Linked DNA regions of Homo sapiens: region 2 is linked to region 1. Evidence: fine-mapped expression QTL. A gene starts in region 1. The other region holds a variant in brackets. All regions are shown on one strand. Distances are between the middles of the regions. Region 1 holds the start of SARAF (store-operated calcium entry associated regulatory factor). Region 2 has its middle 27 kb from the start of SARAF.

Region 1 (8,691 bases):
ATGGCCTTCTTATCTTTGCCCTATCCATCTCTTCATCTGGCTGTTCATCTGTATCCTTTATAAATCCTTTACAATAAACTGGTAAACATAAAATATTTTCCTGGACTGACGTCTGAATTGGGGCAGTCTTGTGGGAGACTGGGCCCTTAACTTGAATTGAGTTATAGGACATCGTGTTGATGTCCTTTAGAGTTGGTTGGTGTGTAGGGAAATACTCCCCCAGCCCCTCTTCTGGTCACAGAACTGCTCTGTGTTTTGTGCCAGTAGAAAGGAGAAAACAGTTTGTTTTTTCCTTTTACAGCCTCATCATTTAGCTCTCAGCTCAAATGGTAATTTCTCAGAGAATCTTTTCTGGGCCATCCTACTTGTTATGGCACTACCTGTCATATTGCTCTGTTTTCTTCTTCAAGGTACTTATTATTATTTGAGATAGAGTCTTGCTCTGTTGCCCAGGCTGGAGTGCAGTGATGCAGTCATGGCTTGCTGCAGCCTCAACCTCCAGGGCTCAAGTGATCCTCCCACCTCAGCCTCTTGAGTGGCTGGGACTACAGGCACATGCCACCACATCTGGCTATTTTTTTTTTTTTTTTGAGACGGAGTCTCACTCTTTCGCCCAGGCTGGAGTGCAGTGGTGCGATCTTGGCTCACTGCAAGCTCCGCCTCTCGGGTTCACACCATTCTCCTGCCTCAGCCTCCTGAGTAGCTGGGACTTAGGCACCCGCCACCATGCCCAGCTAATTTTTTGTATTTTTAGTAGAGACGGGGTTTCACTGTGTTAGCCAAGATGGTCTCGATCTCCTGACTTCATGATCTGCCTACCTCGGCCTCCCAAAGTGCTGGGATTACAGGCGTGAGCCACTGTGCCTGGCCACATCTGGCTAATTTTTTAAAAACAATTTTTTGTGGAGATGGGGTCTTACTATGTTGCCCAGATTGGCCTCAAACTCCTGGTCTCAAGTGATCCTGAGCCTCGGCTTCCCAGAGTGCTGAGATTACAGGTGTGAGCCACCGTGCCTGGCCCAAAGCACTTATTTATTTGAAATGACATGATTTGTTGGCTACCTCTCCCACTAGAATGTTTATTATAACAACCTTTCATCTTTTGTTCATGACTGTCCAGAACTGTACATGGTACATGGTGGGAATCTAAAATAACAAACATTCTCTTGTTAAGGTAATTAGTGATTTCTACATTGCAAAATTCAGAGACCAAATTTTGCTTCAAGCTTTCAGCAACAGTGGACACTGTTGACCATTCTTTCTTTCTCTCAATTACCATATCCTATTGTCCTAGTTCTTCCTCCTTCTTCACCAGAGGTTACTTCTCAGATTCTTTCTAGAATCTTCTGCTTGAGGTTCAAATGTTAGTGTTTCCATAGCCTGGGCCTCCTTTTTTGTGGTATCTCAATTCTCTCATGTTACTGTGTCTCTTCCCACATGTCTTAGTTCATTTTGTGTTGCTATAACAGAATACCTGAGACTGGGAAATTTATAAAGTATAGAGATTTATTTCTTATGGTTCTGGAGGCTGGGAAATCCTAGGTCCAGGGGCCTGCATCTGGTGGGGAGCTTCCTGCTGTGTCATTTCACGGTGGTAGGCAAAAGAGAAAGGGAGCTGAACTCATCCCTTTTATCGGGAACCCACTCCCCAATAACTAACCCACTCCTGTGATAATAGCATTAAGAGCTCTGCCCTCATAACCTAATCACCCCTTAAGAGTCCCCCCTCTCAACACTATTGCTTTGGGGAATAAGTTTCCAACACATGAGCTTTGGGGGACACATTCAAACAATAGCATCATGACATTAAATGCTATCTTTATATTTACAACATAACTACCAAATTTACCTTAGTTTTGAACTTCAGACTTTTACAGTTTATCTATTTATTTGACACGTCTACCTGGATGCCTAATAGTCACCTCAAACTTAACATGTTGAGCATAGATTCTCTATTATCTCTTATTTCAGTCCTTGGTCCCAGCATTGGTTGGTTCCATGCCGAGGCCCCACTGCTCTGCCATCTCTTATTCCACTCTTCCCCTAACTTACTTTGCTTCAGTTATGGCCTTGTTTGCCTCTTGTCCCCCAAATTTTGTTTTATTCACTGCTGTATCCCCAATACTGATAACAGTGCCTGGCAGGTACTGTTAGGTACTAATAGGTGCTCAATATAATAATCTGGTAAACATAAAGTGTTTTTTTGAGTTCTGTGAGCCATTCTAGCAAATTATGGAACTCAAGATGGGGGGTTATGAAAACCCCAATTTATTTGTTGAGAGGGAGTCTCTCTCCATGGTCCAGGTGCAGTGGGGCAGTCTTGACTCACTGCAACTTTCGCCTCCCAGGTTCAAGCGATTCTCTTGCCTCAGCCTCCCAAATAGCTGGGATTACAGGTGTGCACCACCACGCCCAGCTATTTTTCCTATTTTTAGTAGAGGTGGGGTTTTGCCATGCTGGCCAGGCTGGTCTTAAAGTCCTGACCTCAGGCGATTCACCTGCCTTGGCCTTCCAAAATGCTGGGATTACAGGCATGAGCCACCACGCCCGGCCTGGAAACCCTAATTTATAGCTGGTTGGTCAGAAGCATAGGTCACAACCTGAGACTTGTGATTGATGTCTGAAGTTGGGGCCATCTTGTGGGACTGAACTCTTTATAGGATCTGACCAAATAACTCTTCCTCGAAACACAAAGTTAGGGCTTTTGCATCCACTGTTCCCCAGATGGGAAGATGAGTCCCCTGATCTTTGTACGGCTAGTTCTTTCTCATCATTCAGGTCCCAAGCTTCAAAAACCACTTCCTCAGCAAGGCCCTCCCTGAAGTTGTGTCCCCAGGCTCCATTATATCACCCTGTTTTTCATCAATGTTATTACCTATCATTACCTATTATTTTTGTTGTTTAATTGGTATGTCGTTTGTCCTATTCTATTTCAATGAGTACAGGGATCTTGTCTGTACCATCCATGCCTAAAACAGTGCCTGGTGCGTATTAGGTATTCAACATATATTCATTGAATGAATGAATGAATGAATGAATGAATGAATGAATGAAAGAAACCCAAGCCTGCTAGACCTCAAAAGCCCAGAGAACTGTTTTCTCTGGCTGGTTCTTCATTCAGACGATATTTTCTCCTCTTGACATTTTATAGTCTTCCGGCCTCCATGCGCAAGGAACCATGTAAAGGTTCTGAGCCTTGAAACCAGACAATGTATTTCCCTGTTACTTTTCGCTTGAATCTTCTCTGTATTTAGCAACCAGTCATAGAACACTAACCATGTACCAAGCGCTATGCTAAGTGCTGAACACATAGAGCTGAATAAAGCACAGAACTACCCTTGGTACAATTATTGAGGTTTTAATAATACATAATTTGACTACATTTCTTAGATTTCGCGTCGTGACGTTTTCAGCCTCTCAAACTGCATCGCCTACGCACAGAAGCTTCCCGAATCTCAGACGAGACACAACAAAGCTGCGCGCTGCCCTCGCCCCGCCCGCGGGCGCGGCGGCGACAGGCCCTCGGCCCCGCCCACACCGCGGCGCCACGCCTCCAACCCGCCTCCAGCCGTGCCTCCCCAGGCCCTTGGCCCCGCCCACACCGCCTCGCCCCGCCCCAAGCCGCGCTGTGCTCCAGGGGCGGGGGCCCACGGCGGCCACTCACTGAGCCCCACGGGCCGCAGCGGCAGTGACGTAGGGTTGGCGCACGGATCCGTTGCGGCTGCAGCTCTGCAGTCGGGCCGTTCCTTCGCCGCCGCCAGGGGTAGCGGTGTAGCTGCGCAGCGTCGCGCGCGCTACCGCACCCAGGTTCGGCCCGTAGGCGTCTGGCAGCCCGGCGCCATCTTCATCGAGCGCCATGGCCGCAGCCTGCGGGCCGGGAGCGGCCGGGTACTGCTTGCTCCTCGGCTTGCATTTGTTTCTGCTGACCGCGGGCCCTGCCCTGGGCTGGAACGACCCTGGTGAGTGCTGCCAGGGCCCTCAGGCGCTTCGTTCGCCCTTTTCCGCCGCCGTCAGCCGGTGCAGGCTCCCCTGCGTTTCCGTGCGCCGTCTTCCCGGAGCCTGGGTGCCCGGATTCCCCATGTCTGACCTCTTTGCTGTTCGTGCTCTCCCTGGTTCCACTGCTCTTCCCAGGCGTCTTGGGAGGCGGGTAGGGACTGCTCGAGTGGGCGGGGCGGGACGGCTGGAGATCCTTAAGGTCCCCTTTCTCCCTGCCCCGGACTCCCGGAATTTGCCCATTGTCGTCTTTCTCATCTCTGAGTATAACTGGAGAGCTGGACACTCACCTGCGCATCTGCTTTGTTGTTATGGCTGTGTGATGTCATCGTGGCCTGCTGTTGTCATGGCTGCCTGTTGCTATCGCCGGCCGTTGCCTGCCACTGGCAGTCTCTGAGTCACCCTTAGCGGACAGGGCTGCAGACCTCGCAGGTCTGTTAGCAGAATCGCAGATTGCACTCTTTTTTTTTTTTTTGAGTCGGAGTCTCACATTGTCGCCCCGGCCGCACTGCAATGACGTGATCTCGGCTCACTGCAACCTCCGCCTCCTGGGTTCAAGAGATTCTCCTGCCTCGGCCTCACCGGTAGCTGAGATTACGGGTGCCCACCACCATGCCTGGCTATTTTTTTGTATTTTTAGTAGAGACGGGGTTTTACTATGTTGGCCAGGCTGGTCTCGACCTCCTGACCTCGTGATCCACCCGCCTTCATCCTCCCAAAGTGCTGGGATTACAGGCGTGAGCCACCGCGTCTTTATGAGAACCGCTGCCTCTTATCTGACGATTGCAGTGATGTACATCGCGCGGCACCAGCTCTTCCCATTGGCTTTCACCGTAGAGAAGAATTTAAAAAATAATTTTCTCGGTTTTTTTTAGTGATGGTACATGATAAGTGGGTTTTAGGAAAGAGGTTCTTTTATGTCAGTACAGTATTAAAATTGTCTAAAGAATTTTCATGGGATCAGTAATATTCCGTGCAATTAATACGTATATGTCTATATACTTAGATACAGATTTTGACTTTTTCCATGTAATAAATGACGCATGCTGTTACTTTGGAATTCTGTAAAAAAAAAAAAAAATGAAAACAACATCATTTTTGCTTTGCGAAGTAAAGATGGCATGGAAAGCATATTGCCTTTGTGATTTGGTGATTGGAAATGCCTGCATTGTCGAATTTAAGCAACAGGTTTATTTCTATAATAGCCTATTCTTACATGCTGAAATGAGAGAGAAGGTGCTATTTGCAAGCACATCACGTTGAGTAGTCATTTGATGTGGACATTTTATTACCAAAAATAAAAAGCCAAGTTGTATTTAAATGTCTGTACGTTTTTCTTTTGTATTTCTAGAAAGCTGTGTATGAGTGGGAGACTTGATCAGAATTACAAGTGAAAACCTAGAATGAAACTTTAATTTGTTGAACTTTGAATCAGTTCGTAAATAAATTTAATAAAGGAAGTTTACAGTTGAAGAGCCAGAAGAACTATAAAAACTATGAAAGAAGAACCAAATTTAAATTAAAGATGAACCACTTCCTGGTTTATCTACGCTGTAAAACTATTGTTCTGGAACACAAAGCACCACAATATTTTGCAGAGTAAACTCAATTGTTTTATGTAAATTCTACTTCAAAGTTTACTTTGAGGAACTTTTTTGTTTTGTTTTGTTTTTTTGAGACAGTTTCACTCTTGTCGCCCAGGCTAGAGTGCAATGGCGCGATCTTGGCTCACCGCAACCTCTGCCTCCTGGGTTCAAGCGATTTTCCTGCCTCAGCCTCCCGAGTAGCTGGGATTACAGGCATGTGCCACCATGCCCGGCAAATTTTGTATTTTTAGTAGAGACAGGGTTTCTCCATGTTGGTCAGGCTGGTCTTGAACTCCCAACCTCAGGTGATCCGCCCGCCTTGGCCTCCCAAAGTGCTGGGATTACAGGCGTGAGCCACCGCACCCGGCACTTTGAGGAACTTTTTAAATGAAGATACTTTATTGACATACTATTTATTAAGTCCTTTACTAAAGCATTAATCGGCTCCCTAATTTATCTTTTGTTTGACTTGGATGCCATTACTTTAGCTCACATTGAGCAGTAATTTGTCTGGAAAAAAAAATTAGCACCATTCTAAAGAGATTACCAATGAATTTTCAAAATTCCTTATTGAATGTAATCTTATATTAAGTTACTCTTCCGGGTGTTGGGAATATAGCAGTGAACAAAACAGTGTCTTGCCTCCAAGGACTTTACCTCTATTGGGGAGAAATAGACAATAAACAGATAAACATGTAAATAACATGCTATATTGTGAAAATTGGTATGCACCGTGTATGATAAACAGCGTAAGGAGGACATGGTGTGCGGGCAGAAGTGGAGACTTAAAAAACGTACATTGGTCAGGGAAGTCACTGTTAGGGTGACATTTGACTGGAAACCTGAAGTGGGGAGGAGGAGTAAATGACCTGAAATTACTTATATCTTTAAAGGCTCATTTGGGCTGCTCTGTGGAAAACAGACCGAAGAGGGTAGGAGGGAAGCAGGGAAACCAGTGAATTAATATATATTGCTATCTATTTTAATATTGTACAGTAAGTTCTTAGAGTGGTGACCGCTTGGCCCAGGGCAGGAGCAGTAGAGAGCTGGTTAGAGTAGCTGGATTCTCTTGTCACCTGTTTGGAAGGTGGAGCTAACATGATCTTCTGAAGGATCAGATGTAGGAGTGAGAGGAGAGAAGATGAGAAGTCCAAGGTTTTTGGCTTGAGCAACTAGAAGCATGGAGTTAACCATTTCCTGAGATGTGGAAGAATGTGGGATGATCAGGTTTAGGGGAGTTTGGTTTTGTTTATCTTGTTTGAGACCTGCCGTGATTTTGATTTATGAGTCTGGAGTTCAGGGAGCTCCTGTGTCCCTTGACTGATCTAACTAGTGGGGCGTGGGTATTAGAATTTTGTTCTTGGACCTTAAGAATCTCTAGGGAAGAAAGATGCTATAGGATTATGGTAATGCTATTCCATCTTAAAACTTTCAGTAATATTTATCATACCTGATCACCTGTTATGCTTCAAGTACTCAGCCAGATAATAAATTATATCTAAGCTTCACAACAAATTTCAAGGTTGATAATATTTTAATTTTGTAGGTGAGGAAACTTCTACACAGGTAAATTAAATGCCTTGGCCAAAGTCACAGCCAGTTAGTGACACCAACTTAGTTCAGTGTTCTTTGCATTATTGCAACTCTGTTACAATAAATTCAATTTATTATTTCTGTTATTTAGTTGATTAATACAGTCTGATTTTTCTAAACCATTGAACATTTTCATTGTCTTATTTTTTATGTATGAGGAGGTAGTAGTTTGTGTTTAATGTAGCATGGTTTATTTGAATATAGTTCTTGGAAATTTTAGATCTGTAGCCCATGTGGAATTAAATTTTTATATAGCTTTAGGTGGATTTTCTTGTGGCTGCATAGTCAATTATGCCAGTGCTATTTATTAAAGAAGACATCTTTTATCCACTAAATTAAAAAGACCACTTCATCTTACTGAATTCCCAAATGTATCTTGATTTATTTCTGATCTTTCTTTTGTTTCACAATTTCCTTGTCTCTGTTCCAATTCCCTACTATTTTGATTATAATCTTTTTTTTTTTTTTTTTTTTTGAGATGGAGTTTCACTCTTGTCGCCCAGGCTGGAGTGCAGTGGTAGCAATATCAGCTCACTGCAACCTCCACCTCCTGGATTCAAGTGATTCTCCTGCCTCAGCCTCCCAAGTAGCTGGGACTACGGGCGTATGCCACCACGTCCAGCTAATTTTTGTATTATTAGTAGAGATGGGGTTTCACCATGTTGTCCAGGCTGATCTCGAACTCCTGACCTTAGGTGATCTGCCCTCCTTGGCCTCCCAAAGTGCTGGGGTTACAGACGTGAGCCACCGTGCCTGGCTGATGATAATAATTTTATAGTAACCTTTACTATCTGGTAACCTATGTGTTCTTTTTCAAAAAAAAATTGTCCACAGGACCTTTAACATAATTTCTTTCCCCAAAAAACCCTATTGGGTTCCTGGTTGGAAGTATATTTAGGTCTCTCTCTCTATATATATTTTTTATATAGATAGGGTATTGACCTTAAGTTTATTAGATTGATTAGATTCATATTAAATACTTGTGGGAAATACATCATAGGAGATGTTGTAACATCAGTTTGTTCCACCATTAGCAAAGCGATGGTTGGCAAACCCAGCCAGACTTTTTCCTTTAGAGTTTTTGAATATATTTCTCCATTTTCTTTTTCTATCCTGTTGAGATACCTGAAGCTTTTCTAAGTCTTATCTTTTCTATATGGCTTGTTTTCTCCCTATTCTTCTGGCAATTTGTAGAATCTTTTTTTGTCTTCAGTGTTCTAAAATTTACTTTTCGTGTGCCTTTGTGTGGTCTGTTTCTCAGGCCTGGGTATTTGTTGGGCCCTTTCAGTATGACAACTCAAGTCCTTCAGTGTGGGAACTTTTCTTGAATTACAGCCTGGAGTTTGTCTAATCAGATTCCCTTGTTCATTCTTTCAGAAGCCCTTGTTGGATTTTTGGACTTTCTGAACTGGTCCTGAACTGGTAATTTTCTTTCTTTCTTTTTTTTTTTTTTCCTCCTACTGTCTTTTTTCTTTCTTTCTTTTTTTTTTTTTTGAGACGGAGTCTAGCTCTGTCCCCC
Region 2 (8,691 bases), 26 kb after region 1:
GAACACTGGCACATGACTGTAATCCCAGAACTTTGGGAGGCAGAGGCAGGAGGATTGCTTGAGGCCAGGAGTTTGAGACCAGCCTGGGCAATATAGTGAGACTCTATCTCTACAAAAAATTTTATGAAACAAAAATTAACAAGAATTGTCTGACTCAGAGACCTATGGCATTGGCTGGTTGATCATTGTGTACCTATGGAAGAAATAGATGGCAGTCTACTAAATTCTTATTTGATTTATGTATGTGGAAGAGTTCTAGGCTGAGTAAACGGAAGTCTTTTTTTTTTTTTTTTTTTTTTTTTTGAGACCAAGTCTCACTCTGTCACCCAGGCTGGAGAGAGCAGGGGCATGATCTCGGCTCACTGCAACCTCTGCCTCCCAGGTTCAAGCAATTCTCCTGCCTCACCCTCCCGAGTAGCTGGGATTACAGGCGCCTGCCACCATGCCTGGCTAATTTTTGTATTTTTAGTAGAGACAGGGTTTCACCAAGTTGGCCAGGCTGGTCTCAAACTCCTGACCTCAGGTGATCCGCCCGCCTCGGCCTCCCAAAGTGCTGGGATTATAGGTGTGAGCCACTGTGCCCAGCCAACAGAAGTCTATCTTAAGTCACCACAAGTGAGTCATAGCCTCTGAATCATTTCCTAGACTTGAGCTGGTTTATAGCTCCAGAATCCCTTCAATGAAGGAGAGGCTGGGTTCCCCTTGAGGAAGAACCCTACCACATTGCCAGGTTTATATTGTTTATCTTTCCCCCAGTCTTCCCTCAATGGACCCGTGGCTATTTACTGGGGTAACTATGCCCTGGGGAAAGGGAAAATAATCAGATAGTTTAGGGATTACTGGACACTGAATTGATGCTAATTCCAGGAGGCTCAAAACATTACTGTGGTCCACCAGTCAGAGTAAGAGCTTATAGAGTTTTAGCTCAGATCAATTTCACAGTGAGTCCCATGGGTCCCTCGAATGATCCTGTGATTATTACACAGGAATGGAACCTGCGTTCTAGAATGCAGGATTAGAATAGACATACTCAGCAACTAGCAGAATCTCTACGTTGGGTCCCTGACCTGTGGAATGAAGGCTGTTATGGTGGCATAGGCCAAGTGAAAGTCACTAGAACTACCTCTATCTACAAAAATGATAAACCAATAGTGGCTGTGATATGGACACTTGATTAAAGGGGCTGAGAGGACTTGTGGGGAATCCCAATTGGAAGAACATCCAAGTTAGAGATGAAGGCGACTAGGGAGAGTTGGAGTGAGGAAATGGGGTGAAATGGAGGGACACAGAAAGTGCCTGAGCTCTGTGCCTCAGAATGTGATCTTATTTGGAAATAGAGTCTATGTTAGTCCATTTGTGTTGCTATAAAGGAATACCGGAGACCAAGTAATTTATAAAGAGGTTTAATTGGCTCACAGTTGTGCAGGCTGTACAGGAAGCATGGTGCCGGCATCTGCTCCTGGTGATGCCTTGGGAAGCTTCCCATCATGGTGGAAGGTGCAGGGAACAGGTGCGTCACATGGTGAGAGTGGGAGCAAGAGAGAGCGAGGGAGGGAGGTCCCAGATTGATTGACTGATTTTTTTTGAGACAGAGTCTTGCTCTGTCACCCAGGCTGGACTGCAGTGGTGTGATCTTGGCTCACTGCCTCACCTCACCTCTGCATCGTGGGTTCAAGTGATTCTCCTGCATCAGCCTCCTGAGTACCTGGGATTACAGGTGTGTGCCACCACACGTGGCTAATTTTTGTATTTTTTTTTAATAGAGGCAGGGTTTTACCATGTTGGCTGAACTCCTGGCCTCAAGTGACCCTCCTGCCTTGGCCTCCCAAAGTGCTGGGATTACAGGTGTGAGCTACCGCACCTGGCCAGGTCCCAGACTTTTAAACAACCAGATATTGTGTGAACTAACTGAGCAAGAACTCATTCATCACGAGGGGGATGGTGCTAAACCATTCATGAGGGAATCCTCCTGTATGCTCCCAACACCTCCCACCAGGCCCCACCTGCAACATTGGGAATCACATTCAATGTGGGATTTGGAGGGGACAAACATCCAAACCATAACAGGGTTACTGCAGATGAAATTACGATGAGGTTATACTGGAGTAGAGTGAACACCAATGATTCATGTCATTATAAAATGAGGAAATTTGGACACAGACACACAAACAGAAATAATCATGTAATGTCTGGAGTTCTGCCAAAAGCCAATATATGCCAAAGATTACCAGCAAACCACCAGAAGCTGAGAGTCAGGCCTGGAACAGATCCTTCCTCAGCACATACAGAGGGAGCATGGCCCTGCTACCACCTGGATATCAGACTCACAGCCTCTAGAACCGTGAGATAGTAAGTTCTGCCTTTCTGGAGGGATTACAGAGATTAATGCCACCATCAAGGACTTGAAGGATATAGGGCTGGTGCTTCCTACCACATCCCCATTCAACTCGCCTATTTGGCCTGTGCCGAAAACGGATAGAGAGTAATAATAGGTTGTCATAAACTTACCCAGATGGTGACTTCAATTGCAACTGCTGTTCCAGATGTAGTTTCATCACTTGGGTACATGAACATATCTGGTAGTTGAAACACAAGTGCTCTGGCAAATGCTTTTCCTCCATACCTGTTAGTACACACCATCAGAAGCAGCTTGCTTTCAGCTGGCAGGGCCAGCAATACACCTTCACTTTTCAGTCCTATGTCATAATTTAGTCTGCAAGGACCTTGGTTACCTTTCCCTTCCACAAGACTTCACACTGGTCCATGACATTTATTATATTAAGCTGATTGGATCTGATGAGCAAGAAGAGCAACTACCAAGAAGTAGCAACTACTGTAGATGTATTGGTAAGGCATTTGTATGTTAGAGGGTGGGAAACAAATCTGACAAAGATTCAGGGGCTTTCTACCTCAGGGAAATTTCTAGGAGTCCAGTAGTATGGGACATGTTGAAATATCTTTCTAAGGCCAAGGATAAATCGTTACATCTGGCTCCAGATGAAAAAAATGATGCAATACCTAGTGGATCTTGCGGGCAACATATTCCTTATGTGGTATGCAACTCTAGTCCATTTACTGACTGATCGCAAAGCTGCTAGTTTTAACAGGAGCCTAGAACAAAAGAAGGCTCTGTGATAGGTCCAGGTTATTGGGCAAGCTCAAGAGTCATTTTAATATTCATTTTTTTTTCTTTTTTCAGAATAGTCTTGCTCTGTTGCCCAGGCTTTAGTGCAGTGGTGTGATCTTGGCTCACTGCAAACTCTGCCTCCTGGGTTCAAGTGATTCACCTGCCTCAGTCTCCAGGGTAGCTAGGATTACAGGTGCCCATCACCATGCCTGGCTAATTTTTGTATTTTTAGTAGAGACGGGGTTTCACCATGTTGGCCAGGCTGGTCATGAACGCCTGAATTCAAGTGATCCGCCCGTCTTGGCCTCCCAAAGTGCTGGGATTACAGGCATGAGCCACCGCGCCTGGCCAGCAACCTAATTTTCCCTTGATAATTAGGATGAATTACCTGTTAGAGTGGCCCCTTACTTTGTCCATTTGTTCAGTAGCATGAGGAGCCCAAACTGTCCAAGGACAGTCTCAGGTTTCCAATTCATCGTGACAGTGTTTCCTGGTGGAAGCATTCCTTCCTTGTGCACTGGAACTTCCAAATCCACTATATCAGCACCACTTGTACACCTTCTCAGAGGCTCTTAACTGCCTTCTCCTTTCACGTGGTTGGTGTCACACCCACACCAGGTCACCCCTCCACTTTGAGATTTGAATAAGACGACACATTGCAAGGTGTGGAATATGGTTTCCTGTGTGGCTGCCGGGAGCCCAGATGGTGCAACTCAGTTGTTTAGGGAATTAGCTCAATGGAATGAGCAATGACCAATGGGAAATAAATTCCTATCTTTTCAGGGATTACTGCAAGATGTGTTTTCTTTTTGCAACTCTTCTGGAGAAGTCCTTTGTGCAGAGTGAACCTGCCTGCAAAGCGACCTACTGTGTGTCTGTAGCTCATTGTGAAGCAGTGCCGCAATCCATTGCATGCCATTGCATCACATCTTTATTTGTCTCACTTTTTTCCCTCACCCTGTGTCTTTGGACATGCTTCTGTCCAAGTGCCAGAAATGTTTTTCTTTTTTTTTGCTTGAGTTCTGCTTTCTAGAGGACTTGTGTTAAGACA[A/G]TTGGTGTGAAAGTTGTACAGGATGGAATTTTGGAATTGGACTGTTCAAGGAATCAGAAGAACTTGAACATCGACATCTTCCTAAGTCTTTCTTTCTGGCATAGCAGCCCCTTCCTTCTTGCTGAAGGGGATTAGCCTTCCTTGTCTAGAGACCATGTAACGGCCTCACCTGAAGCAGATGCCTTGTAAGATAGCATTTTTTCTTAAAACTGAGTCCTGCCACATCTCTGCCTCCAGGCCAATAACTAGAGTCAGATCTCAACCTTAACAGGGAAAGACAGTCCCTGCTTTGGGAGGAAATAAGCCACACAGCAAAAGAATGATAACCTCTTGGAATTATAGCACTTGCCTTGGGAGGAAATAGGTCACATACTAAAAAAATCATGGTACCATACAGCTAATATGTACCAGCGAGAGTAGGGATAAACCATGTGGAAATTCATCTGGAAGTTGGGCTGTGGGAGGGGTGAAATATGGTGGAAAGAGAAGTCCTTTATGTTCACCTGTGAATTGGGATTCAATGTTCTGTCAAAGACATGAGCTACTGGTTCTAATAATTTTCTGGGATGGTTTCTTGATGGATGATGATGGTTTCCTGATTGGATGTGATGATGCCTACCGTAAGTGAGGTAGAGATGCCAGACTTTCTATGGTATAGTATTGAGCACAGTATCTGAAGACTCAAGGAAGTGGGATGTTAGAATTTACTTATGAGACTGAATAATCCAACATTTGACTCTACTCTGAGGGTTCAGAGCATCTCCCTTTACCAAGGTAGTAAGGAAGGTACTGGTGAGAGAGTTATTAGCATTTTTAAGGGCTCAATGATAGTTGTCCTCTGTAGGCAAAGGTTAATAGTGGGAAATGCTGTCATGAAAATGGACTTCCCAAGATTAACAGAGATAGTGGGTTTCCGAAGTGGCAAATTGCATCTCTTCATTGTCAGAGCCAACCAAGGTGGATGGAATTCCATACAGGACAGCAAGTCAAGAGTAGCCTGATTTACAAATGGATCTGCATGATATGCTGATACCACCTGGAAGGACAGTGAAGGGAAGTGCCCTGAGGGGGTGGAATTTTGAGCTATGCATCTGAAATAAGAGATGGCAAGACATATGTATCTACACTTTTCAAAATAGACAGTGGTTTCTGGTTTGAATGGGTGACCAGGGGCTTGGAAAAATGAGACTGAAAAATTGACGATAAAGCTGGGCAAGCTGGCTCATGCCTGTAATCCCAGCACTTTGGGAGGCCGAGGTGGGCGAATCATCTGAGGTCAGGCATTAGAGACTAGCCTGGCCAACATGGTAAAACCCCATCTCTACTAAAAATACAAAAATTAGGCTGGGCGCAGTGGCTCACGCCTGTAATCCCAGCACTTTGGGAGGCTGAGGCAGGCAAATCACAAAGTCAGGAGATCGAGACCGTCCTGGCTAACACAGTGAAACCCTGTCTCTATTAAAAATACAAAAAATTAGCCAGGCGTGGTGGCACACACCTGTAGTCCCAGCTACTCGAGAGGCTGAGGCAGAAGAATCACTTGAACCCAGGAGGCAGAGGTTGCAGTGAGATGAGATCGTGCCACTGCACTCCAGCCTGGGTGACAGAACGAGACTCTGTCTCCAAAAAAAAAAAAAAAAAGAAAGAAAAATTGATAAGGATATCTGGGGGAAATGTAGATGTATGGTCCTCTCTTAACAAAGATGAGATTTTTTTTTTTTGTCCAATATACATGCTTACAACTACCTGAGTAGTAGAATATCACAGAAATTCTGGCATCTCCACCTTGCTTACTATAGGCATCATCACATCCAAGCAGGAAGCCATCATCCCTCAGGAAACCATCCACTCAGAGTATTAGGATCAGTAAGTAGTTCATGTCCCCGACAGAACGTTGCATCTTAAGTCACTTCATAAGATGACATTTTCTGTGGCTATTATTCAGCCTCTTTTTTTCAGCAAGCCCTACTCCTGTTTCATTGGCTCATAAACAAAGTGGCTAAGGTGGTAGGGATGAAAGTTATCCATCGATTCAGCAAAAGGGTCTTCCATTCACCAAAACCGATCAGGTTACAACCGCTGCTGAGTGCCCTATCTCCCAACGGCAGAGGCCAACACTGAACCCTGAATACGGTTCAATTCCCTGGGGAAATCAGCCCACCATCTGGTGGCATGTTGATTACATGAGACCACTTCTATCATGAAAGGGGCAATGATTTGTTGTCACTGAAGTAGACATTTACTCTGGGTTTGGATTGGCCCTTCCCACTCGAAAGGCTGTTGTTGAAACCATGATATGTAGATTTACAGAATGCCTTATTGTGTATCACAATGTTTCACATTGTTTCTAAGTAAATCATTTTCTAGTGGATGAAGGGCAGGATGGGAATAATGCCCACATAATTTATAGGAGTTCCTGTCTTCCCTGGATCCAGAAATAGTAAATCTTCATGATTTTGCTAGCTCTGTGATGCCTTCGGGAAGATGTCTTTTCATATTTTGCTCAGTTTTGTTAGTTTCCGTGTGTGATAGGATTGGTTCAAATCATCTTGCCCTCACAAACATAAAAGTGGAATTCCCTTACTGTAGATATTTGAAGACAGCTCTATTTTTTATTCAAGTTAAAAATCCAAAACACTCTCAATCATTTCTTACTTTACCTAGCTTTTGGATCCTCCACCATCTGGTCATCTACCTAGGTTTGATCATGTTTTTTTTTGTTGTTGTTGTTTTTTGTTTTTTAAATCCCCAGCACAATCTTTCCTTATTAAAGGAGAAAAGACACATTTCTTCCTTACATTAAAATATTCAAAATTATGAGTATTTATCAAGTTAAATTATATTTAATTAAATTATATAGATAAATCATTCACAACTATATATAAGTTAAAATATGCATATTTCATAATTGAAAAAAGAAAAGCAATGCAAGTTCTTTGTAAAACATTCGAACAGTTTAGAAGGATATAAAGAGAAAAGAAAGAGTCTGTATCTGGCTAGGCATGGTGGCACATGCCTGTAATCTCAGCTACTCAGGGGGCTGAGGTAGGAGGATCACTTGAGCCCAGGAGTCTGAGGCTGCAATGAGCTATGACCGTGTCAGTCACGACAGAGCAAGACCCTGTCTCCAAAAAGAAAAAAGTCTATATCTGCCCAACTCCCCACGGCCCCCTTCGTTTCATCCTCTCAGTGTGGTCTCTCTACCTAGAAATAATTTCTGTTAACATTTTTTGGTTATTATTATAGAAATTATACACAATGTCCAGAATTTTTTCACAAAGAATAAATCTATTCTTTTCACAGCTGCATAGTATTCCATCATATGGATATATTATAATTTAATCTCACCATTCCTTTATCAATATCAATATACATTTACCACATTTTCAATTTTGTTCCCTATTTTCAACAATGCAATAATGAACATCCGAACATATCTTTTGTACATGAGTTTATGTTGTAGCTGCTCCAAACACTGGAGTCAGAGACTTTATTATAGTTTAGATCTTTAATGTACATGTGTTTAGATTTATAAGATATATTTCTAGAATAAGATTTATGCTTAAATGTGGCACCCAGACTGTAATTAAGATATGGATGTCAGAGAAGCTGCCATTTAAACTTGGCCTTTGATCTTCCTGCATGGGAGGATAAAGTGAGTCATTCCAAAGCGGATCTTCTTTGTTCTTTGTGGTTCATAAGTAAAGATAGGGTAAGCAGACATCTATTGCTCTTGGGGAAATGTACAACAAAGCCTTTTAAAAAGGGCTTGATGAAGGCTGCTTTTTAAAATATGCAGAGATGAAAGTTTGCTTAAGCAGAAGTACATTTTCATGGAAACCCAGGTGGCTACTGGAAGAGTATGCAGTATCTCTCACACATCTCTTTTGGACTTCCTCATAAATAGTACCTTTTGGATGGTTAGAGGCAGCTCTTAGGGGAGAGAAGGATGAGTGAAGACCGGGAATTCTGGGTTATTACCCGATTCTACATAGTCTTGGGAAAAAGTGGGTTCTGGGTTAGCTTGTGGCTATGTCTGGAACTGGAATTGTCCTGGATCCACAAGGGCACAATGAGTGTGTTGGGAAGAATGTCTGCATATGTGGTTTTAACCTGGAGAGCTATTACCTGGGAAGTGAGGGAGGAGGACACCACTGTGACCTGCATAGGAATATGGATGGAAAAGAACAGTGGAAAAGAATATACCAGACTGGGAAAGACCAGTATTCATAATGTGGCAACAACAATGGTAGCTGAAAGTTAGGTCTGCTGGTGATGGATTGGATCCTCTGGATTGCTCTCCAGAAGGCATTTCAGAAATATGTTCATCCATTCTGGACAACATCCTGGGATTCTTGAATAAGTGGGCAGAAGAAGAGAAGTCCCTTGAAAGAAATTATACCTCCAACTTATCCAAAGTATTGGGATTCTGCTTGGTTTAGTTAAGTAAAATAAGAGATGCAACAATATTTGTATCTTGATTAAATAAATTATACTGGTTGTTCCAGCATAA

Evidence for each region. PIP is the estimated chance that this variant, and not a neighbour inherited with it, causes the effect.
Region 2: its variant is fine-mapped to the expression of SARAF in whole blood (TOPMed, PIP above 0.99).

The regions. Positions count from the first base shown.
Region 1 is chr8:30,078,115-30,086,805 of GRCh38, reverse strand. SARAF (store-operated calcium entry associated regulatory factor) reads left to right here and starts at 3,742. Exons shown (of 6, transcript NM_016127.6): 1 at 3,742-3,959. The coding sequence starts at 3,857. RefSeq lists a silencer at 3,419-3,788 and an enhancer at 3,829-4,178.
Region 2 is chr8:30,051,842-30,060,532 of GRCh38, reverse strand. No RefSeq gene overlaps it. Among named protein-coding and RNA genes, the nearest start is that of SARAF, 27 kb to the left of the region's middle. RefSeq lists an enhancer at 2,394-3,593. The variant A/G (reference allele first, on the strand shown) is at 4,179.